4 linked regions of the Homo sapiens genome follow. The protein of the gene in region 1 interacts with the protein of each later gene in a biochemical or structural test. Each region holds a gene or a part of one and is shown in the gene's direction. Other genes may lie near its edges. The genes, in order: NOS1AP, SYN1, LRP2 and SYN2.

The links.
Region 2: the proteins of NOS1AP (region 1) and SYN1 form a complex in vitro, tested with the Homo sapiens proteins (one study listed by BioGRID).
Region 3: the proteins of NOS1AP (region 1) and LRP2 form a complex in vitro, tested with the Homo sapiens proteins (one study listed by BioGRID).
Region 4: the proteins of NOS1AP (region 1) and SYN2 form a complex in vitro, tested with the Homo sapiens proteins (one study listed by BioGRID).

The regions. Positions count from the first base shown.
Region 1 is NC_000001.11:162,072,682-162,079,720, forward strand, and holds part of NOS1AP (carboxyl-terminal PDZ ligand of neuronal nitric oxide synthase protein), read left to right. Parts: intron 1-7,039. UniProt on the Homo sapiens protein: Adapter protein involved in neuronal nitric-oxide (NO) synthesis regulation via its association with nNOS/NOS1. The complex formed with NOS1 and synapsins is necessary for specific NO and synapsin functions at a presynaptic level.
Region 2 is NC_000023.11:47,609,826-47,616,864, reverse strand, and holds part of SYN1 (synapsin-1), read left to right. Parts: intron 1-7,039. UniProt on the Homo sapiens protein: Neuronal phosphoprotein that coats synaptic vesicles, and binds to the cytoskeleton. Acts as a regulator of synaptic vesicles trafficking, involved in the control of neurotransmitter release at the pre-synaptic terminal.
Region 3 is NC_000002.12:169,240,529-169,247,567, reverse strand, and holds part of LRP2 (low-density lipoprotein receptor-related protein 2 precursor), read left to right. Parts: intron 1-52; coding exon 53-190; intron 191-581; coding exon 582-863; intron 864-2,635; coding exon 2,636-2,875; intron 2,876-4,045; coding exon 4,046-4,165; intron 4,166-4,495; coding exon 4,496-4,612; intron 4,613-6,202; coding exon 6,203-6,580; intron 6,581-7,039. UniProt on the Homo sapiens protein: Multiligand endocytic receptor. Acts together with CUBN to mediate endocytosis of high-density lipoproteins. Mediates receptor-mediated uptake of polybasic drugs such as aprotinin, aminoglycosides and polymyxin B.
Region 4 is NC_000003.12:12,189,353-12,192,536, forward strand, and holds the end of SYN2 (synapsin-2), read left to right. Parts: intron 1-1,137; coding exon 1,138-1,273; 3' UTR 1,274-2,680; downstream 2,681-3,184. UniProt on the Homo sapiens protein: Neuronal phosphoprotein that coats synaptic vesicles, binds to the cytoskeleton, and is believed to function in the regulation of neurotransmitter release. May play a role in noradrenaline secretion by sympathetic neurons.

The DNA.
Region 1 (7,039 bases):
TGCACCCTGGCACATTCAAACACCATGTTAGTCAAGACCTAAGCAGAGGTGGAAGCACGAGCTTTTCTGTCCTACATGCTCCTGGTAAGAGCCTTCTCTGGCTGTTTTCCACATCCCTGCAGAGCAGTGTCTATGCAACTGCACAATCACTGGGATTTCAGGGTTAAATCCACATCGCAGTCTTCCCTTGTTTTGGAAAAATGCAGGCTGGAAAATGCAAATGTATTATTGTTGCCTTGTCGGGTACCCTTGGAAAATGAGTGCAGCTCTTTCTCTCCCAAGGGCTGGCAGTTTTTCAGAATCAACATTGGATTGAGTGTTCCTTTGGAAGTATGCCACTCATTTTCAGGGTTCTGCAGAGATTGAAAGGTGTGGGGTTAGGATCGAAGGGCATCTGGGTGGCAGAGGTTCTGTGCACTTAAAAACCCATGCATTTAGTTATCAAGTGCAATCCCAGATTTTTTTCACCTGCAGTACCTCATTTAATTCTCACTACTTCCCTAGGAGATGGGTCTCCTTATGTCTATTTTATAAACGAGGACATAGGCTCAGGGAGGTTGTTGCGTGCCTTAGTGCTCACAGTTGTGTATGACAAAGCCAAGATTTAAGCCTGGGGCTTTGACTTCAGACTCCCAAATCCAGTGCCTTTTCATTCAATAATTTTTATGGAATATTCACTCTATGTTGGCCACGGGTTTGAGTCACAGCTCTCTAGTGGAGTGTTCTCAGGTTGCTGGCCTCTAGAACTCTGGTACAGGAAATTATTCAAACATTTATTTATTTATTTATTTATTTTGAGATGGAGTTTTGCTCTTGTTGCCCAGGCTGGAGTGCAATGGCATGATCTCAGCTCATCACAACCTCCAACTCCCAGGTTCGAGTGATTCTCCTGCCTCAGCCTCCTGGGTAGCTGGGATAACAGGCATGCGCCACCATGCCCAGCTAATTTTGTATTTTTTGTAGAGATGGGGCTTTCTCCGTTTTGGTCAGGCTGGCCTCGAACTCCCGACTTCAGGTGATCTGCCTGCCCCAGCCTCCCAAATGTTGGGATTACAGGCGTGAACCACTGCGCCCGGCTCAAACTTTTAATGCTTGGCTGTTTCCAGATTTCCCTTTGGGCTGAGAGCTGCTTGCCAGGGAAACCTGTTGTCTGTGTTCAGAGTGGGTACCTGGCTTACTGACTGATGCTGGTGGGTGGGTAAATCTCACATGCCCTGAGAGCCTGTGGCTCCTTAGTAACTGCCTCCTGATCTCCCAGTATGTCTTCCTGGTGGCCAGTGCCATCAACTGACTGTCTCTCCTCTCTTGGTGAGAAAGAGACTTTTAATGCTATGGGTACAAAGGATAATAAGAGTATTAATAATAGTTATATCTTATATCTGTAGGTGATTTTTGATTTGCATTGGACTTCTACATACAAAGACTTTTCCTCTTATAGAGACAGGCACAGGCACATTAGTGTTATCTCGATTTTTCAGACCAAAAAATGGAGATCAGAGAGATTAATTTGTCCAGAGTTGCAAATTGGTGTATCAGTTAATGATATTTATTGAGCACTTACTATGTGCCATACATTATTCTAGCCTCTGCCTCACTTAATCCTCACACTCCAGGGCTTTTGACTCCAGGTCCATGGTTCTTTCACCTCCTCCAAGGCTCACTCAAACCTGAAGTATTAATAGTTGCTCCCTTTGTAGTCCTAACACTCATTGCCTAGATTGTTCCCTTATATCTGCGTGTATGATACAGATGGTCAGAACTGGAAAGCACCATGGCTCATCTAGTACAACCCCCTCACCCCATCATTGTACAGATGAGGAAATTGAAGTTTGGAGGGGAAGTCATGGACCCAAGGTCACATAGTCAGATAATAACAGAACCAGGACTTATCCCTGGTTCCCTGGCTTCAAACTGGTTTCAGTTATCCATCACTTCAAAACAAACGACCTCAAGACTCAGTAGCTTGAAACAATAACTGTTTAATTTGCTTATGAATCATGGCTCAGGAATTCAGGCAGGGCTTGGCTGGGCTGTTCTTCTGTTGCTTATGGCGTTGACTGGATCACTCACTTTGCTGCATTCATCCACAGCTAGGCTGGAATGTTCAAGAAGGCTTCACTCATATGACTGTGCCTTGGTCGTCCTTCATGTGACTATTCTCTTCACTGGCTGGCTTGGATTTCCTCACAGCATGGTGGCCCTTTTGTTTGGCAGCTGGTTTTCAGTAGGGGGTGTTCCAAGCAGGAAAGCAGAAGCTCTTAAGGTTGGGTCTTTCTGAGTTACATAGGGTCACTTCTGCCACATCCTGTTGGTCAAAACAGGCTATTAGGGAAGAGACATAAGCCCTACTTCTTGATGGGGGAATGTCAAGTTCACATTGCAAGATTGCACGTGGGATGAGAGATATTGCTGAAGCTGTTTACCACACAAAATTCTGTTTTTTCCTCTCTGCATATATCTTCTCTGGTGATATGGAATGTTCTTTGAGGACCTTGCCTCATGCCTTGGTGTATCTCCCCCTCCCAAGCCTCAACATCAGGTACAAACATAGTCACAATGAAAAATTGTCAAGTGGAAGAAATGACCAATTGTGGAAAGTCTGAAAGCAGTAAATATCATTGCTGAGTGATTTTGTGGCTTGGGAGCATGTGGTCAGATTGAAGCTGAATTCTCTGGCTATATTTCCTTCCTTGCTACCTGGCTTCATTGGTTGATGGTTTCCCTGATGTGGATTTTAGAGATTCCAGTAACCTCAGCAGGATATCTGTGGATGCCTCTTAAACATACGGCCATGAAGGCCTCCAGATGAATGACATTTGGTCACCGTAAATGGGGTATCCCTGACTCGTCTGAGCCTGCATGGCATGGTACAGAGCTCTCAGAACCATTCCACTATACACTGGGTGTTTATGTCCCCTTTCTCCCTTCTCTCCACCCAGACTAAGGGTCCTGTCTTCCAGGGTTCTGGAACAGTAGCAATTCAGATTAAGGGTCTGATGTATTTTCTGATGTCATCATTAAGGAGGAGACGTAGTTCACTTTCTTATGCTTTTCCAGATGCTTTTAAAAACACTTATCTTCTGCCCAGACTACTTTTTTTTTTGGTGGGGGGCAGTGAGTTCCAAAGATACAGTACTGCTCTGAAATGACACCTATTTTATTTGTCCTTACATTGCTCTCAGATGTCCCAGTATGTTCCTCCACACCTGGTATCTTGGGATTTGATGGACAAATCTATTTCCACGTTAGCTGTACATTTCATGATTTTATGGCTTTCAGTCGTAGTTCCTTTGCCCACAATGTCCCAGTCCTTTTTAGTGGTCAAAATCATGCAGCCACATCTAATGATGACCTTTGCCAGTTATCTATACTAATCAGGCTTGACTCACTGTTTACTATTGCCTACTCATAATGCAGCTACTCCCAAGACTCAAACTTTCAGAATGCTTTCGCTGGCTATAATTACCTGCCTTCCCTTTATACCTTTGTTGCCTTGAGGATGCTCTTAGCTCCTCAGTGACCTTTTTGCTGCCCTTGTCCTGCTGTCTACCCTCCCCAGCAGCCTGGGACCATGCCCATGGCCGTTCCTTCCTGCCTTTTTGCCCTACCCTGCAAACTTGATCTTTGCTACTTTTCTTCTTCCTTTCTGTTTTTGGAAAAGACCATTTATATATTTTCTTTGGAGAATGTCTATTCTGATCCTTTGCTCATTTAAAAGTTGGATTGGCTTTTTACTATTGAGTTCCCTCCTTTCTAATAGTTTTATTGAGATGTAGTTCACATACCATACAATTCACTAATTTAAAATGTATAATTTAGTGATTTTTAAGATATTACAGATCTGTACTACCAGCACCACAGTCAATTTTAGAACATTTTCATCACATTAAAAAGAAACACTAGGCTGGGCGCGGTGGCTCACTGCTGTAATCCCAGCATTTTGGGAGGCCAAGGCGGGTGGATCACTTGAGGTCAGGAGTTCAAGACTAGCCTGGCCATCATGGTGAAACCCCATCTCTACTAAAAATACAAAATTAGCTGGGCATGATGGCACACACCTGTAATCCTTACCCCCTGCGTCTTCCCAGACCTGAACAGCCACTAATCTACTTGCTGTCTCTAGATTTGCCTATTCGGGACATTTCATATTTATGGAATTATACAATATGTGGTCTTTTGTGTCTGACTTCTTTGCCTTAGTGTTGTGTTTCAGGGTTCATCTATAATTTATCAGTACTTAATTCCTTTATATGGCTGGATAATATATCATTGTATGGATATACCACATTTGGTTTGTTCATTCATCAGCTGAGGCACATTTAGGTTGTTTCCATTTTTGCCTCTTAAAAATAATGCTATAAACATTCATGTACAAGTTTTTGTGCAGGCATGTTTTTATTTTTATTTTTTAAAATTTATCTTGGGTAAAAGTAAAATGGCTGGGTCCCATGGTAACCATGTGTGACCATTTGTGGGACTTCCAATGTGGCTGCATCGTTTTACCTTTCCACCAGCAGTGTGTTCATATCTTCACCAATGCTTGTTGTCTGACTTTTTGATTCTAGCCATCCTCCTGGGTGTGAAGTGGGATTTCATCATAGTTTTGATTTGCATTTCCCTTTTGAACAACATAGAATGTCTCCTCATTCCCTAGGAAGCAGACTCAGAGAAAAAAAAAAAGACCATCTTTTCATGTGTTTTTTGGCCATTTATATATTTTCTTTGGAGAAATGTCTATTCTGATCCTTTGCCCATTTAAAAGTTGGATTGGCTTTTTTACTATTGAGTTGTAAGAGTTCTTTATATATTCTGGATTCAAATCCCTTATATAGATTTGCAATATTTTTACCCATTCTGTGGTCTTTTCACTTTCTTGGTATTGTCCTTTGAAACACAAAGTTTTAAATTTTGGTGAAGTCCAATTTTTTTTCTTTTTCCCTCATTTTGAGATCCATCTGCCTTCCATGTCCTGTTAGTCTGCCCTTGTCCTCTTAATTATGCCCTTCACTCCCCACCCCCACCCTGGCACAGTTACATCTCCTGGGCACTGGCTTACTCCTCCCTGCCTAAGAGTATGCTATGGCCTTCCCTGTATGAAATACCTCTTCTTTCCACCTCTTTCTTTAATTAACATGTTGTCTTTCTCCTCCTTTCACAGCTAAGCCTTGTGAGAGAGTACTCCACCCTCTGCAGTATCTCAGTCTTCATTCAGTCCCTGGCCACTTCCTTCCAACTTCTGTCCTGGCTGCTGTACTGAAATTGCTCTGCTGCCCCCTTCTCTATCCTCATCCTTTTTGACTTTTCTTCCTGAGCTGCCTGTCCTAGTCCTCTGTGGAATGCCTCATTGGGCTCTCTGTGCCTGCTTGCAGTCAGCCAGCCCCTTGCCCCTGCCCATACCTCCTTCTTTTGTGGCTGTTCTACCTCCTCCCTTTGCCCTCTACTGTGAGTGCTCCATTCCCTCTCCTTTGGATTCTATCTACTCCCACTCTTCTGTTATGCAGGCTGCTGGCTCTCTACTTCAGTCCAGACTCCACATCTTTATGCGCAGCTTCCTGCTGGTCATCTGTACCTGAATGTGTTGCTGTCCCTATCACTCAACAAGCTGGAAATCAAATTTCTCTTCTGACTTCATTGTCTTTTAACGACCCCACCATCCTCTTGGGCACATGGGCCTGACACTTTAAAGTACCCCTTGTATTCTTTGATTTAACAGCCAACTCAAATTTGCTGTTTACTGGGTACCTATGATGTCCAGGCTCTACTCTCCTGTACCCCACATCAAGTTAGGTGCCAAATCCTCTTGAATGTTCCCAGTGACATCCATCCACCCACCCTGGCTGGTCCATCACCCGTTCAGATGCTCCACCCCCTCCCCTGTTATCAGGGCCATCAATAACCTTCTGAAGGCCTCCAGTGTCCCACTTGTTCTCTGATCCCCCTCATCCCTTAAACTTTTGCCCTATCAATTTTCTTGAAATGGTTATCCTCCCACTCAAAAACATGAAAAGTTTCTGTACCTACTATATTAGAACCAAAATTCTTAGTATGATATTCAAGGCTGTTTTTGAACAATTCCCTTTAATCACCCTGGGCTTCAACCCAACTGTAGTACCCACCATTCCCTTAACCCTCACTGCAGTTTCCCACCCCGTTCACAAGTCACTCTGTGAAGTGGATGTTACCAGTCCCACCTGCTTTGTATTAGAGCTGCTTGTCCTGTCCAATTTTCATCCCTACATTGTCATTGTCAGGGTCCATGTCACTCTGCCCCCGTGTCTTCCACAGCCCTGAGTACAGTGCCTTGCACATAGAAAATGTATTTTGAATGAAAGAGATGATCCCTATAAGATGGCCAGGACCCTCCTGGGTCACCCAATGGTGAGAGGTGCCTTAATTGACTCTCCACTCCTCCCCACCATTTCTCTTGCTTTAGTCTAGTAACTTCCGGTTCCCAGTGGCTTGAGGGACCCCCCAGCATGGCCTCTTTCTGATACCCCCAATCTCACACAGTGCTGATTCCTTCCAATGAAAATACCAAGTAAGCATTTTTTTTTCCTGAATTAAATAAAATTCCACTGATGGATGTCCAGTGGAATTAGAATCTGAATATAGAACATATGGCCAATTTCAGGAGTAGGTAATTGTCATTTCTCAATTGTCATTTATGTAAGAAACATTTTCAACTTGTTTTCTCATTAATGAATTGATGTCTTTTTTTTTTCCTAATTCATGGTTTATTTTCTGTAATTTGCTACTTTGCAATTTTTATGACATGAATTTGGTTGGTAGCATAGCATGGCATGAATTCAGGAGCCAAACTGTGTTTGGGTTCAAATCCTGGCTCTATCCCTCACTTGCTACTTGACTTTGTGTGAGTTATGTAACATCTTTCCTTTAGCGTTCTCATTTGTAAAAAGAGGATACAAATATCTCATACTTCGTAGGGTTAATGGGAGGATTGAATCAGTAGTACCTGTAAATGGCCTAGCACCGTGCATGACACAGAGTTGGCTGCTGTTTTTATTATTGTTATTAAGTC
Region 2 (7,039 bases), on another chromosome or scaffold:
CAACACAATCCTGAAAGCTCACAATGTGCACTGTTTTCCATTTATTCTAGCTAGGCCTCTTCCTCCACTTAGTAGCCATCTCCCCAGCTGCCTTTTTCTCCCCGAATTAGTCCAGAAAACACTTATTAATCTCTTACTGTATTATTTTCAAACAGCCACATTATCATCCCTGCAGCAGGCTTCTCCGCTTTTTTCTCTATCAATCTGTAAAGCATTTATGGAGCACGTGCTGTAATTCCTTCACCAACGTCCACTCACCAACGTGTTATCTTCCTGGTTAAGTTTGCTCCATTGAAGTCAGCAAACATCAATGAGGCCTCTGCTGGATATAGGTAATCACCCTCCTTTAGACTTCCGGTCTCCACTCCAGCCCTCCATGCAGGTCCTTTGCGTCTGCTTCCTTCTTTCCATCAAGCATTTATTATCTATGGAATACTGACAAGTCCCTTCCCCTTTCCATAATCACAAATTCAATGTTTTCCATTTTTTCTTTGTCCAGAAAACATTTATTGAGCACCTGCTGAATTCAGTGAAAGATCCATCCCTTCCCCTTCTGCATCTCAGAAGCCCCCCTTTATCCCAGCATCCCCTCCAGTCTTTTCTTCCAGGCAATCTAGCAAATATTTATTTAGTGTCTACTATATGTGGGGTGGGGTGGACAAAGGGACAGAGCCTATGTATGTACGCCAGGCTCAGTGTGGGGAACAGAGACCTGTTTTACCAACTTGCAGACACTCAGAACCACACTAGCTTCAGGGATTTCAGCCCCAAATAAAGCAGGAGTTGTGCAAACTCTGTGATGGAATGTACACCGAAATACAGTCTGACGCCTTTTCCACCAAACCTCACCACCCTCATTCCTTCCTGGGTCTCAATTCCTCTGTGGTTTAAAGTTGAAAACTCTAAGTTGAGACTCATCTCCCCCATTTTGTGGGTAATTTTGTCCTGTGTTTTTCTTTCTTTTTTTTTTTTTGAGACGGAGTCTTGCTCTGTCGCCCAGGCTGGAGTGCAATGGCACGATCTCGGCTCACTGCAACCTCCGTCTCCTGGGTTCAAGCGAGCCTCCTGAGTAGCTGGGACTACAGGCACATGCCACTATGCCTGGCTAATTTTTGTATTTTTCGTAGAGATGGGGTTTCACCATGTTGGTCAGGCTGGTCTCAAACTTCTGACCTCGTGATCCACCCACCTCGGCCTCCCAGAGTGCTGGGATTACAGGCTTGAGCCACCGTGCCCGGCTCTCTGGTGTTTCTCAAACTATGGGTCACCTATTGGCTTATGACCAGCATTTCACTTTCTTCTTGAAGTAGGATAAATAAAAATAGAGAATAACAGAGCATATTGCACATAGTAAATGGAGTTGTTGTTTAGCAAAACATATAATGTTATTCCATTAAGATATACAATCTGTAATGTATATTATATATGACATACGGTATGTAATACATGTGTTATACAATGGCTTTACAGTACATAATACATCTATATGTATATGTTCTTCTTCATGAAATGAAATAAAATAGCATAGAAAAATCAGACTGCATTACACATAGTAAAGGTAATTATCTATTGAAACTTTAATTCCAGTTATGCATATGTATTTATATACATTCTAAATACATATACACATAATATGTAATATACAACATTTTATATGTTACATAATATATAAGACATTCTATATTCTCATATTTGCTGTACAACATATGTGTCTTATATAATACATATATAGGATGAGTTATTATGCAAATACATATATAGTGGGTTATATAAGCTTTATTTCTTACTGTGGCTTCTTTTCTCAGATATATTTCCCTGGAAGCAGACCCCGAGACTCTGAGATTTGCATGCAGATTTACTGGGGAGAGCGCTTGGGAATAACACCTGTGGGGGAGGTTGTGAGGGAAGCAGGATTGTGCAGAGGGAAAAGTTGAGCTGTGATGCAACCACAAAAGAGGCCTCGGCCAATCCTCTGGGGAGCTCTGGCACTGGAATGACCCTTCAGAGTTGTCCCAGTTGAAGCGGGGTGGCCAGGCTTTGAATTCCTATGTCAGTCATTGGCTGTAGGCTGCCCCCTGGGAGGAGGCGTAATCTTGGGTGAGGCAAATCCCTGTTGCAGAGGCCAATGCCCAGTGAGGGACACCTATGAGCCATCAGCAGCGGATAATTCCAGAAGCTGAGGATAGATGCAAAGGTCTGGAACAAGGAGGTAAGGATCTGGGGGGAGCATATAGTCCACACCTTGCACTGCTCCGATCCACTTCCTTCTTATAGTAAGTTCACCCCATTGGGGAACGGCATTTCCAGAATTCTAATCGGTCTTGTTTTCTCAGGGACACTTGAAAGAGCACGGTAGTGAGATGAGCCATAGTCTCTGCTGCTGCAGTTGATTTCAACGTCATAAATGATATTCATCCTCTCCTTCTTTTGTTACCCATTCTAGATTCCCCCCACCCTCAGCTAGCACCACTCTTGGTCTGGGTGGCTCCCATCCTGCAGAGATCCCTGAGCCTTTGGTCCCCATGCCCTTCTCAGGCTGTAGCTGCTGTACAAACAACCACATTTCCCATTTACTATCAAAGTTGAGCAAGGAGTACCAACAGATGCCCAAGTGGATCCCCTGGGTGCCAGACATACTCCTCCCTGCCTCCACTGTGTACCAGCAGCTCTACCTCCTCCTGAGGAGCAAGGTTGGTCACGTCCCCTGCCAAGACAATGGCTCCTTTTTATGTCCCTTGGCATGAGAAACACGAAGTGCCCTGAGGGCAATCATAGCTTACAGTTTAATGGGATTCTTGCTGTGTCCCCTGGTAGCAGTGTTCCCCCTTGGAGAACCAGGACCTCTAACCTTGCAGAGCCCTGAGGGAACAGGAAGCACAATTTCAAAAGTGGATCACTGGGATTGCTGGTAAGCTGGGCCACTCCTTCCTAACCTCTGTGTCCCCAAACCGGTGTATTCTACCTGTTAGGAACACAGCACCTACAATGGCCATTGATTTAGGGTTGACACTGTTTTGGAGGATGGTGCCCATTCTTGCATGATCTCACCTTCAACCTGGGATCTTAGCTGTGGCTGCACCAAATTGTTCCATCATTCCATCAGGCCAGCAGCTCCCGGGTGGCGTGGTGTGTAATACCATCAGTTAATTCCATGGTCATGGGCCCACTTTTGCACCTCCTTTGCTTTGCATTCCTTTACTTTGCTATAAAGTGTGTCCTTTGGTTTGACGCAGTGTTATGCAGGGTCTCGTGCTGGTGGATCAAACGTTATGTAAGCCCTTAGACAGTGAGCTGGCTGAGGTCCTGCAGTAAGAAAAGGCAAACTCAAATATGGAATATTCCAGTCAAAATCGATTACTGTTCTTTGCAGGATGGAAGGGGCCCAATCTAATCAGCTTGCCACAAAGTGGTTGGTTGGCCTTCTGGAGGGATGGTGGCGTGTCAGGGATTCAATGTTAGTCTCTGTTGCTGGCAGATTGGACATTCAGCAGTAACACTGCTGCCCCCACACATAGCTTCTCTCTCTGCTGCTATTGCCACTTATTCATGTGCCCATCTGCTAACACTGGGGTGGCTGATTAGAGCCTGGCTGACATCATCGGGCTGACTCATGCTGTCTACCTGGTTGCCTAGTGTCACTTCCATGGCGCCATGGCAGATGCTGTCTGGTGGGTGTTAACACACGATCCAAAGATCCTCGCTCCTCCCTTTTTTTTTTTTTTTTTTTTTTTTTGGAGACGGAGTCTCGCTCTATTGCCCAGGCTGGTGCTGTGGCACGATCTTGGCTCAGTGCAACCTCCACCTCCCAGGTTGAAGCAATTCCCCTGCCTCAGCCTCCCGAGTAGCTGGGATTACAGGCGTGCGCCACCACGCCCGGCTAATTTTTGTATTTTTAGTAGAGATGGGGTTTCACCACATTGGCTAAGCTGGTCTTGAACTCCTGACCTCAGGTAATCCGCCCACCTCGGCCTCCCAAAGTGCTGGGATTACAGGCGTGAGCCACCGCGCCCAGTCTCACTCCTCATTTCTTGCCCACTCCTAGGTGTCTGCCCACATTTCTGTATCCCAGACCTCTTTGTCTGGATCTTCCAGTCTTTTTATTTCCAGGCCCCTGACCAACCAGCCAAACCATTTACCACTGCCCATAAGTGGATATATGTATTCTAATCTTGAGGCACTTCTCTTTCTGCACAAAGGAGATGAGCAGGTGCACAGCCTGAAGCTCTGCCCACTGGGAGCTCTGCCACTGTCTTTCAAGGCCATTCCAGTTGGGTTATAGTGCAACCACTGCCCATTTTTGGCTTCCACCCACATACTAAGACAACCAATTTGTGAACCAAGCTTAGACCTTTCCCTCTTTCATCAGCTAGTTTTAAGGAGTCCCCTTAGTGAGACAGGCACTAGCACAACAGTGTGGAAGACATGGGGATCAGGGTTACTTACCTGCTCATGCACCTTGCTTGGTTCTGCTTGGGCTCAATCCTGACTGCTGGGCCCACCTGACTTTATTATTTGGCGGGCCCAGCAGGACCCAGCTTATAATGGGAACTTCTGGATGCACAATCATTTGGTGCCTGGTCAAGCATTCTGTCTCTATCAGGGCCCAGCACCTCAATGGGGTGTCTTTCTCAAAAGGCGTAAAATTCTCTGCTGCAGATGGCATGGCTTTGCTCCAGAACCCCAAGGGCCTCCCACTCAGGCTTCCCATAAGCTCCTCACTGCATCTTTCCCCACTACTGACACCTCCAGTATCATAAGATCTGCCAGATCATCTGGCCTAAATGGCAGGACTGCTTGTACCACAGCCTGGACCTGCTGCAGAGCCCTTTTCTGCTCTGGCCCTCACACAAAGCTGGTAGCTTTACATGTCGCCTGGAATATGGGTCAGAGCATTATTTGTGTGTGGGGGACATGCTGCCTCCAGAATGGGAAGAGGCCTCCTAGGTATTGTGCTTTCCTCTTCATGGTGGAAGGTGCGTGATTCAATGCTTTGCTCTATTCTTTGGAGGGGCTGTCCTGGTTTACTGCCCTGGACCACTGGATTCCTAAAAATTTTACTAATGCATCGGTCCCCTGAGTCTTTGTGGAGTTTATCCTCCACCCTCTGTAGTGGATGTGTCTTACCAGGGCAATATGCTCACCCTCTCTTGCTCATCTTGCACAATCAGTATGATGTAATCCATGTGGTGGTCCAGTGTGCTATTCCATGGGATGTCCAGATAGTCCAGGTTTCTCTGGACTATATTATGACACCAGGTGAGAGAGATAGCATAGCCCTACAGCAAGACCATCTATGAATATTATCATCAGTCTCATGTGAGTGTAAACTGTTTCTGATCCTTTTTTCTAATCAGAATAAAAAAGAATGCATTTGCCAAGTCAGCAGCCACCTGCTGTACCTGAGGTCTTATTAATCTGCTCTGGCAATGACAGCGTGTCCAGTATGGCAGGTATAACTAAGGGTACTACTTGATTGTGCTTGCAGTAATCTGCAAGCATTCTCCAGGACCCATCTGACCTCTCCAGGGGCCAGACTGCTCAACTCGATGGAGATAAGATGAGACCAACACCCCTGCATCCTTTAGATCTTTCAATGTGGCATTGATTTCCATCATCACCCATAGGATGCACACAATATTGTTTGTGGTTTATTGTTTTGTTCAGGGCATGGGGGTGTGCGCCATTTTAGAAGCTTCTATTTGGACTTCCCTACTGAAACAGCTCTTATCCCACAGGCTGAGGAGCCCATGTAGGGGTTCTGACAACTACAAAGTATGCCATTGCAATTACGCATTTGTGAACTGAGGAAGTGACCACTGGGTGGGTCTCTAGACCCACCAGACCCACTGTAAGCAGGACCTGGGCCAGGACTCATTTATCACCTTACCACTACTGTGCTTCTCAGCGTGACTGGTACCACCCTCACCAGCATGTTTCTTATTAATTTCATAAGTTGAGTGTATCCTCCAGGCCTTAATCAGCTGGTGGGTTTTCCAGACTTCAGTAGTATATCTACTCCAACATGTCTGCTTCTTTGAGCCCTTTAATCCTTCCCTGTGCAATCTGCCATGGAAGTTCTGCTTCACTTAGTGTGGGCCATTGTTTACTCCAGGTTTCCAAATACCAGTGTGTTAGTAACACTTCCTAGAGTCCTCGCCAGGGTTTTAAGTTCCGTATCCTGGGAGAGCACACCAACTTCCTGTTCTACCTCCTTCGCCCATTGTCCTCAGGATCCAGTCTCATGCATACCTTCCCAGCTCCTGCCAATACGTACTAGCCAGATTCTTTAGGTTCTTCTACAGATCATTTCTCTCCCTTTGCAAGCCTAGAACCTGTCCAGTCAGGTTTCACTAGGATTTCACCCTAATTTTTGGTCTGGTTTCCAGGAGGGTAGGTGGGGGGTAGACTCTGAGGGGGGCAGGCATTGTCTTACAAAGCACCTGCATCATCCGAGGCCTCTGCATTATCTTCAAGCAGAAGGTCTATATTCTAACTCAGGGGAGTAGTCTACTTCAGCAGGCCCAGTGGATGCAGGTGAGTCTGTAAGTTCAAGGTGTTTAACTGCATCTGCCCAGATATCCCCATCTCAGAGTCCTACTCCTGTCCTATTAGGGACATGAGCATGGCCCAGGAGATGTGCTGGGCCTGAGAAGTCAACTTTCTCCGAAGCTCCGCCACCACGTAGAATTAAATTCTGAGCCTGGCCCTCCCTTCTGTCTGCCCTCTGACTGCAGGAGATGAGGGTTTCCTTAAATGCAGTCAGGGAGATCCTCTGGCTTTCACATTTTGCCTTGAATTCACCCTGAGCATGTCAGGTCTTTCTTCAGCTACTCAATGGCGTTTAGGGAATAGTCACCCAAGTCTGGTTACCATTTCCCTGACATCACTCAAGTTCCAGGGATATTTCACCATCCAGTACATTCCCTTCCACCAGAATCCCATTACAGCCCACCATCAGGAAAAGTCACCGCTACTCCAAAACCCTGGGGGCCTGCGCTGTATTCTCCCACCTGGGAGAAGAAATTCCACACAGCATCTT
Region 3 (7,039 bases), on another chromosome or scaffold:
TTTATAAGTTAGCTGTGACTGAAAATACTAATCTACCCATGTTTCTTTTCAGAGCATTTATTTTTTACTGACTGGAGACTGGGTGCCATTATTCGAGTCAGGAAAGCAGATGGTGGAGAAATGACAGTTATCCGAAGTGGCATTGCTTACATACTGCATTTGAAATCGTATGATGTCAACATCCAGACTGGTGAGTGAGATTGCCCAGTTTTTTTTATTTTTTTGTATGGGTTTATTTATTTGTTACAGTGGCTCCTGTTCTCTTTAAGTACTTATTACTTAAAGGTCTAGCTCCTGGTAGTTTTATATTCTTGTCGTTCACATAATCTAAGAGTGTAAGACTTGAAATCTCTGTTCAATGCTGCTAGCCTTAAACATGTTGTCAGGAAAAACACATTTTGGGACTTTTCCATACCTAAATGGAATGTTGTATTTGGCGGGTTGATTTCCAAGAGGAAGCTACTTTTTAGTATTGGGTCTGAAAAATGTTTTGTCCTGTTTGTTTTCCTTCACAAATCAAACCCGTGACCTACCTAGTGAAAATGTACATGACTGACTCCCTCGGGGCTTTGCTTTTGCAGGTTCTAACGCCTGTAATCAACCCACGCATCCTAACGGTGACTGCAGCCACTTCTGCTTCCCGGTGCCAAATTTCCAGCGAGTGTGTGGGTGCCCTTATGGAATGAGGCTGGCTTCCAATCACTTGACATGCGAGGGGGACCCAACCAATGAACCACCCACAGAGCAGTGTGGCTTATTTTCCTTCCCCTGTAAAAATGGCAGATGTGTGCCCAATTACTATCTCTGTGATGGAGTCGATGATTGTCATGATAACAGTGATGAGCAACTATGTGGCACACTTAGTAAGTAGCTATGCACTGGCGATATTTCCTGGGATGAATAGAGTAGAGGTGGGCTTTAAAGAAAATAAATAAAAGCTTGGGCTATTTATATGGGAAAAATATCTTTTAGAATTTCAGATTCTTAACATGCACTTTGAAGGCTTTTAGGAAGCTAAGCAAGAAATTTCATTCATAATGTTATGGATGGTTTCTGGCCTTGATTTAGACTATCTTCAACAATTTTTTTCCTTGACATTGGCTGTTTGGACCAATGCAGTCATTATGTCTTGGCAAACTCCTCAAAAAGTCAAATCGAAATAAACTAGATCTGACCAGGCAAGGTGGCTCATGCCTGTAATCGGAGGCCGAGACAGGAGGATTGCTTAAGTCCAGAAGTTTGAGACCAGCCTGGGAAACATGACGAAATCCGGTCTCTACAAAAAATATAAAATGGCACATGTATACATATGTAACTAACCTGCACATTGTGCACATGTACCCTAAAACTTAAAGTATAATAATAATAAATAAATAAAAAAGAAATAGATGAGCTCAGAAAAAAATATGTATATAAAATTACAAATAGCTGGGACTATTACAAAATACAAAATTACAAAATACAAAAAAAACAAAATTACAAGTAGCTAGGACTACAGGCACATGCCACCACACCCAGCTAATTTGTATTTTGTATTTTCACAAAATTTGTAAAATACAAAAATTTGTACTTGGGAGGCTGAGGTGGGAGAGTTGTTTGAGCTGGGGAGGTTGAGGCTGCAGTTAGCCAAGACTGTGCCGTGTACTTCAGCCTGTGCAACAGAGTGAAGCCCTGCCTCAAAAAAATAAGCAAACAAACAACAACAACAACAAAAACCAAAAATAAAGTAGACCTAACATTTAGCAACCGAGAGAATAGTATCACAGAATAACTACTTGCAATCATAGCCTTTGGAAAATCTCATGTGTTATATTCCTTTTCTCCCATGTTAGAGTAAAATAAATTAACAATGAAATGGTGGTCTTAACCTTTATATTCTTCTTTTGACGGTAATCTAGTCTATATAGTTTGGGGCCTAATAAACACTATTGCAGAAGGCAAAAGTATTACATTCAAATTAAAAAAAAGATAGAGGACAGTTGAAATCTCAGAAATCTCTATCAAGGTGAAGTTAATACTAATAATAACCTTTCTTTTGGAGAGAAAGAGGAGTGACAGATTTGCAAGAGTAAAGTGCTCACTTGTACATTTTTCTGAAATTTTTTAAATTTTCATCTTTTTGTGTATTATCTTCTTGTTTCTAAGAGCACAGCATTTTACCTTAATATTTTATCTATTTGCACTTTTCATATGACATATTTTCAAGCTTTCTATAGTCTGAATTTGAAATTGTGGTTGGAGGAAGTAACAGCTTGAAAGTTAAGGATGAGCTTTAGAGTGAATCCAACCAGAGCGTGAATCATAGGCAGGTTCCTAAATCTCTCAAAGACTCAATTTCCTTATCTGTAAAATGCAGACAATTATATGTACTTTATAGTATTCTTGTGAGGATTTAAAGAGAACTTATATGATGTGTGTGGGTGCATAACTTAGAAAAATGCCTTTTCTATGATAAATACCAAATAAATGCCAGCCAATAATGATGTTAGTGATGATGACATCACTTGATGAACATTTCTCCTTATTATATACAATGCCTCCATTAAAAAAGGTGAACTGAGCCTTTATAAGGCAAGAACTCATTTAAAAGGCTGTAAAAACAAATGTCTTCATGACCAGTTTGTTACTATTGTAGATAATACCTGTTCATCTTCGGCGTTCACCTGTGGCCATGGGGAGTGCATTCCTGCACACTGGCGCTGTGACAAACGCAACGACTGTGTGGATGGCAGTGATGAGCACAACTGCCCCACCCACGCACCTGCTTCCTGCCTTGACACCCAATACACCTGTGATAATCACCAGTGTATCTCAAAGAACTGGGTCTGTGACACAGACAATGATTGTGGGGATGGATCTGATGAAAAGAACTGCAGTAAGTTTTGAGCTGGTTTCCCTTGGTTGGTCAGCCTCGTAAATAGACTTCAACAACCAAATGGCCTTGCATTCTTTCCTCTAAGGCTCATGCAATTTTCATTGTCTCTTTAGTACTTCTATTCCACTTGTCAATCTCTGTGTCAATAGGTTACAAGAACAAAGGCACGTGCCTGCACATGGGATTCTTAGAGTCCACCTACAAATATTGAGTTCTATGGAAGCAAAGCAAGGACTGCCTCTGATGCCAAACATTTCAATTCAGATAGGAATTGAAAAAGTGAAAATCCCTCAGCTATCTATTTATATATTTAAAACAATACTAAAAGTCATATAGATATATCCAGACCTTTGGCTATTGATGTTTCTTTTTCATTTGGTACAAGCAAAAAGACATCAAAATAAAGAGGCACAGAAAATTTAAATTTCCTTTGATCTTATCCACCTGTTTTCCATCTTGCCAGTTCTGCTTTCCTTTAGCTTGTTGTTTTATTTCATGTCTTCAATAATAGTTTAAGATGGAGCAAAGTTCCCTGGGCTAAGTTCTAGTCCTGGTTGCCTGACTAGGCAAGTCACTATCATTTGGAATAGATGAGCTTTAAGATCCCTTCTAGCTTTCATACCCTATAAGTGTGTATTTAATATAATTTCATGTTGTGGGTGGGGCCAGCCACTGCATCCGACTCCAAGGCTATGGTCTTAACAGTAAGGTAGGACCCTGGTTTTTAGAATTGTTCTGTTCAGACTTTTAAATCCAGTTTTGGGGGTCTGTCTACACACTGTTGCTACTAGGCATGTGGGTCATGCTGGTTTTGTTGCCTGATTGGGCTCCATTGCTTGGCTTTGGTCTAGAGTCATGGACTTCATAGTATTCATGAAATGTAGTCCAAGTCCAAGCACATGATGCTCACTTTCTGAATGTGGTCTATTTTCCAAGGTGTAATCACAGTTTCTGACTCTGCCCTGTAATCTTTTTATTCTCAATTCTAAAACCTATCCTAGTTTTGAGTTCTTTTGCTTAGCTGACTTTGATAGTGTGGCTGATTCAAAAGAATTTTGAACCCATGTACAATTGAGATAACTTCTGTAGCTATTTAGCCATTTTTAGTTTGGCTCTGGTACTTGTTGCACAGGAAATAAACTTGTTGGTTTTGTTTTCGGATGACATTAGATTCGACAGAGACATGCCAACCTAGTCAGTTTAATTGCCCCAATCATCGATGTATTGACCTATCGTTTGTCTGTGATGGTGACAAGGATTGTGTTGATGGATCTGATGAGGTTGGTTGTGGTAAGTGCATTGCCTTCTTTTTTATTCACAATGTTTATTTAGAAAAATCTCAGTGTTAACACATGGACACAGGGAGGGGAACATCACACACCGGGGCCTGTTGGGGGGTGGGGAGCTAGAGAAGGGATGGCATTAGGAGAAATACCTAATGTAGATGATGGGTTGATGGGTGCAGCAAACCACCATGGCACGTGTATACCTATGTAACAAACCTGCATGTTCTGCATATGTACTCCAGAACTTAAAGTATAACAACAAAAAAGAAAAATCTCAGTGTTTAGTCATTTTAGCCCTGAGCTAATTTCTAATGCTTTTCTCTTTCATTCTTAGTATTAAACTGTACTGCTTCTCAATTCAAGTGTGCCAGTGGGGATAAATGTATTGGCGTCACAAATCGTTGTGATGGTGTTTTTGATTGCAGTGACAACTCGGATGAAGCAGGCTGTCGTAAGTAACACATACCCAGAATGTTTCAGACAAAGGGGTCATTTCATTTTTGCCAGTATTGATATTGATATTGCCACACATTTTCCCTAACTCAGACAAACTGGGGGAAAGTATCCTCAAAGGAATGTGGTATTGAACATACAGTAAAATTGAGTAGACATTGCCATATAATGTGTAATTAACAAATCAAGTGGTTGTATAAATGGACACTTCAAATAGTCTCTTAGATGGGCTAAATATTTCTTAGATATTTTTGTTTTCACTTTTAGTTTTTCTTAGGACTTCCCACTTTAGTAGGTTTAAACTTTTGAGGCTCTACTCCATATAAAGATATTTTACTGGTTTCTTTTAAGTTTCAGTAGAGAAGTCATATCATGGTGTAGAAATGGTATGGAGCTGTGTTTAGTATTGACTCTGATGAATTCATTCTTTGTGCTATTATGTGTTGAATATCTGCTAAGATGTTATCTATGGAGATTATAGAAGGCAAGAGACAATTAAGCAAGATAGACAGTTACAAGGGTCTTAGAAATGGCACAGATAAAATTCTATGGAGGTTCAGAGAAAAGAAATTTCTTCTAGTTGGAGGATTCAAGTAGGACTTCATACAGTATAATTCTGATGGATCTATAATCTTCACAGACTGGAAACCTATACTCACATGATTTGTTATTTGCCCACTTTTTGTTTTAAATGGATTTTAGACTTGCAAAAACTCATCAGTGAGTTGATCATTTGTTTGAACAATGGTGTTTTAGACCAAAAAAGTAAGTTTTCATGAATTCTCCTCCTGCGTCAGAAAGGTAGTGTGTAAAGCCATGGATTAAAAAGAAAAGTTAAATAAAATGCTTATATACTTTATAGTTTGCACAACATCTAGAAATTACTAATCACTAATTTTCCTGTTTCACATTAAAAACATAAAATTCTGTGATGAGCTGAGGTTAAACTGTCAATTGCCGCTGGCTTGCTGTTGCCTTGTGAGATCCCTGGTAGAGAGTTTTGGTTTACCCTTGTCAAATAGGGAAGCAGTTCTTACGTATCTCTCCAGGATTGCTTGATGAATAGTGGAAAGTTTGCAAAGAACTGAGTATTTACCATCATCTTTAGTTAGTGTGTGATGGTTTCATTAGGTATAGTTCATCTGAGGGAAAATAATAACACCCAAACATGATATGAAACACATGAAGTTCAAAGTAATCATAGCTATTTAAGCTCTATTGTAATGTTCTGGTGATTCTTTCATAGAAAGATAGATAAACTTTATTATTGAATCTGCAATTGGAAGTACATTAAAAACACAGGAAAAGGAAACAGGATGTTCTTTTGACACAGGTACTCATCTGCTAGTCAGCAGTTGTGCGTTCTGTACTTCGTTTGTTGTCAGAGCCACTAGCTGCCACAAAGAAATATTTCTATGTACTAGAGTGTGGGAGAAGACTCTATATCATTTAGCCTTAAATATTAATTTGGTCATAGTTGTTACTATAAACCTACTATTGGATCCAAAATCATTTCCTCTGAGTCTAGACTATAAAAGGGATCACAAATTACATTCACAAGCCGATTTACCCCATGTTTTCCTTCTAGCAACCAGGCCTCCTGGTATGTGCCACTCAGATGAATTTCAGTGCCAAGAAGATGGTATCTGCATCCCGAACTTCTGGGAATGTGATGGGCATCCAGACTGCCTCTATGGATCTGATGAGCACAATGCCTGTGTCCCCAAGACTTGCCCTTCATCATATTTCCACTGTGACAACGGAAACTGCATCCACAGGGCATGGCTCTGTGATCGGGACAATGACTGCGGGGATATGAGTGATGAGAAGGACTGCCCTACTCAGCCCTTTCGCTGTCCTAGTTGGCAATGGCAGTGTCTTGGCCATAACATCTGTGTGAATCTGAGTGTAGTGTGTGATGGCATCTTTGACTGCCCCAATGGGACAGATGAGTCCCCACTTTGCAGTAAGTTTCCTGACCACAGTTTACTGGCCATAAACTCATTCTGAACAGTAGCCTGGTGTGCATCACCATTGTCACAGTCACTGTGTAGCTTTGTAGGAAGGATTTCAGTTCCTCTATGAGTTCACATCTGTGTAGGGGGTAACCATAATTGAATTCAAATACATCACCATTGGATAATTTTCTGATTAAATCCTTTGTACTTGGTTATGTGTTTTTACTTCTTTTTATGTCTTTGTTTCAAAAAATGAGACTAAATTGAGGCCATTAGATTGTCAAATTAAATTTGGTTCTGTTGGTAATGTGCTCATTAATTTTTCTAACTTTAATATTTTCTAATTTCAATCAGAACTTATCACAAAAAAATGAAGTCCAGGGATTTGTGTTGCTGTGATTAAAGTGCTGTGATTGGCATGTAATCCTAATTACTGTCATTTCTTTCTTTCCTCTTTAATCAATGCT
Region 4 (3,184 bases), on another chromosome or scaffold:
CTAAAATGTTGTAGTTTGGATTTTCTCATTAGAAAACTCCCTAAGAAACTTGTAAAGGCCTGATATATATCTCTTTTGCCACTGGACACCCTGAACCCCATAGACCTCATATTAGCGCTCTTCTGAGGAGGGTTACAAGGGTGGTTACTACATCCATTTTAAGAACAGGGAAATTGCCGGGTGCGGTGGCTCACGCCTCTAATCCCAGCACTTTAGGAGGCAGAGGCGGACGGATCATGAGGTCAGGAGTTCAGGACCAGCCTGGCCAAGTGAAACCCCATCTCTACTAAAAATACAAAAATTAGCTGGGCATGGTGGCAACCATCTGTAGTCCCAGCTACTTGGGAGGCTGAGGCAGTAGAATCGCTTGAACCGGGAGGCGGAGGTTGCAGTGAGCAGAGATCGCACCACTGCACTCCAGCCTTTGCGACAGAGATTCTGTCTCAAAAAAAAACAAAACAAAACAAACAAAAAGAGAACAGGGAAATTGAAGTGTTAGAGTTTTGAGCCAAGCCAATATATTCTTTTGGAATCAGAGAAGAGATCAGAATAGAAAGAGCCAAAAGTGCCTAGAGATCTTCATTTTACCAAACTTGACAGATGAGAACCCAAAGAGAGGCACGTGGCTTGCCTCCAGTTAGGAGGGAGTGAGTGGCAAAACGAGACTTTGGCCCAGGTCTTCTCATCTGGCTCCACCAGTTGACAGTTGATAGAGAAGACAATGCCAGCATCACAGGCCCATTGTGACTTCTTTTCATCAGAAAAGTAATGTGAGATTCCTAGGTTAGTTCTTACCAAGTTGGGATCTGTGAAATTTAGCCCTTGGGCATTTCAGATTAAATTAAAGAAGCGGCCTTTGAGTCGCCTCTTCCTCCTCTTTCCCTTCTTTATTTTTTTCCTTCTCCCTTGTTCCCACACTGTCCCCACCCTTTCTATTCTAGTAGCACCAAAGTTGAGGAAGTAGCGTAGGAGTCTCCCAGGGTCTTGGTAGCATGGCCACTTCTGGCATTATCCTCCATCACCTTGGTTTCCCAGGGAGGGAGTGGGGGTTCTAGCTGTGTATCCTCACGTCACCGTCCTTCCCTGCCTTGCTGGGAACACCACCCTCTCACATTCTCTCTGGTTTTTATCTTCAAGCAAGTCGCAGTCCCTGACAAATGCCTTCAGCTTCTCTGAGTCCTCCTTCTTCCGGTCTTCAGCCAATGAGGATGAAGCCAAAGCAGAGACCATCCGGAGCTTGAGGAAGTCCTTTGCCAGCCTCTTTTCAGATTAGCTCTTCAGACACACGGGGCACCCAGCCCAACCGGGAAAGGCATCTAAGACATTCACCAACAACAGTCAGCCAGCTTGGTGGTTATGTCCCATGACCTTGACGTGTGTGGTCCCTTCCTCTGCTCTGTTGTACTAAGTGATGTTGTGCAGCCCAGAAAGGACCATTTGACAGTCTCAGGGCAGGTGCCTACCCAGCAAGGGGTACCTGGCATCAGAGAGGAAAGAGCTGCTTCCCTGTAGTCATGAGAGCTTCCTTCTGAAGTCATCGTTCGCTGTGAGTTTAGTGGCCTTATTGTGACAGTGCCATCATGTCTTATTCTTCCCTGTGAAACCAGGATTAATCGTGGACTCCTGGCAGCTTAACCTAGCTCAGTTGCAGTGCTAAGCATGCCCCGCCCCCATTCAGTGATACCTGTTTGGGAAGTATATACTTCCCCAAAAGTACTCTTGGCCCTAAGTTTTAGGAACTTTCCCCGACCTGGATCCCTTGTCATACCTGTGTTACTGTTTAAAGCACACCCACCCAACTTACAAGATCTTAGGCTGCTGTGGTGGTGAAGCACCTTGAGTCTGCTGATATTCGGGAGAACAAGGATCTGCAGTTTCCCCTTTTCTCCCCTCTGAAGAGTGGTTCTTATGTGCAATCTGCAGTAACCTTGAACTCCAGAGCTGCACTATAGAGGAGAATGCATGCCACTATGACAGCAGTATGCCAAGCTTTGTGTTCATCTCCTAATAAACGTTAAGACCTTTGGTGTAATAAAAGCAGCAGCATTCACCAACATTTGATTCAGCCATGAGGTCTTGACCCCTTGGCCACCCTTTAGGCTGAGAGAGTGTCCATGAGGGGTGTGTGTGTGTGTGTGCTTGAGTGTAGGGAGTGAAAAATCTAGGTGTGTGAAGCTGTTTGTGTCAGTTTGTGTGTGTGACTGCAGGTGTACATGTGTTTGCAAGTGTTTGAGAATGTGTCTGTCCTTTACATACCACTTCTGGGCCTCCTCGCACCTCCCCAGTGAATCTGTCTCCTCCAAGACACCTAGCCTTCCTTCAGCAACTCAGCGTTTCTACCTATATTACGGACTTTGTAACCTTTCAAATAAGCACAGAACCCTTGCTCCCGGAGGAGTCAATTTAGACTCACTTGCCTGGTCTATCATCAAGCTCCTCAGCTGAGGCCCACATGGTGGTGCCAATGAGGCTGGACCAACCTGCTCTGACAACCAGGCTCCCACAGATCTCAACGAAGGCATCCTAAAGAGGCCTGCAATTGAGGGTGGGCTCTGAGGGATTTCACTCTGGCTGCTTCATGACTCCCTGATACTCAAGTATATTTTCCCAAAGACCACGGATGCTGTGAAGATAAACACTACATCTGCACCAATAAAAAATCCATATATTAAAATGTTAATATCTGAATGTTAATAAGTATCTAGATAATTTCCTACACATGACACCCATCCTACTAACTCAACAAGATAACCTCCTCCAAATGCCACTATCTTAACTTCTCTTCACGGGCAGTAGATGCTGCAAGGTCAGAGAATGAATTTCTCCGAGAACCAGGGTCTCCTTTCTTACTCATTCTCTGTTTTCACAGTTCAAGGATTGAGCACCGTACCCTCTTCTTACACTTAGAAAACAGGAAGTAGAACCTCCCATTGAGTGACCCCTGGGGGGTGAGAGCCCTCCTCCCACAACACACATAACTAAGGAACAAACCAACCAAACCAATGCGTGGGGTACCTGGGCGCAAGGCAATTGACCTTTAGAGTTCCTTCTGTTTCCAGCTGTAGGGGAGGCAGATGTCCTCTTAACGTTCTGTGGCTGGGCCTGAAAATTAAGCATACATAAGACAGATGAACAGGACAAACGTATACACATTTTATTTAATATTTTTATGCGTACGTGGGAA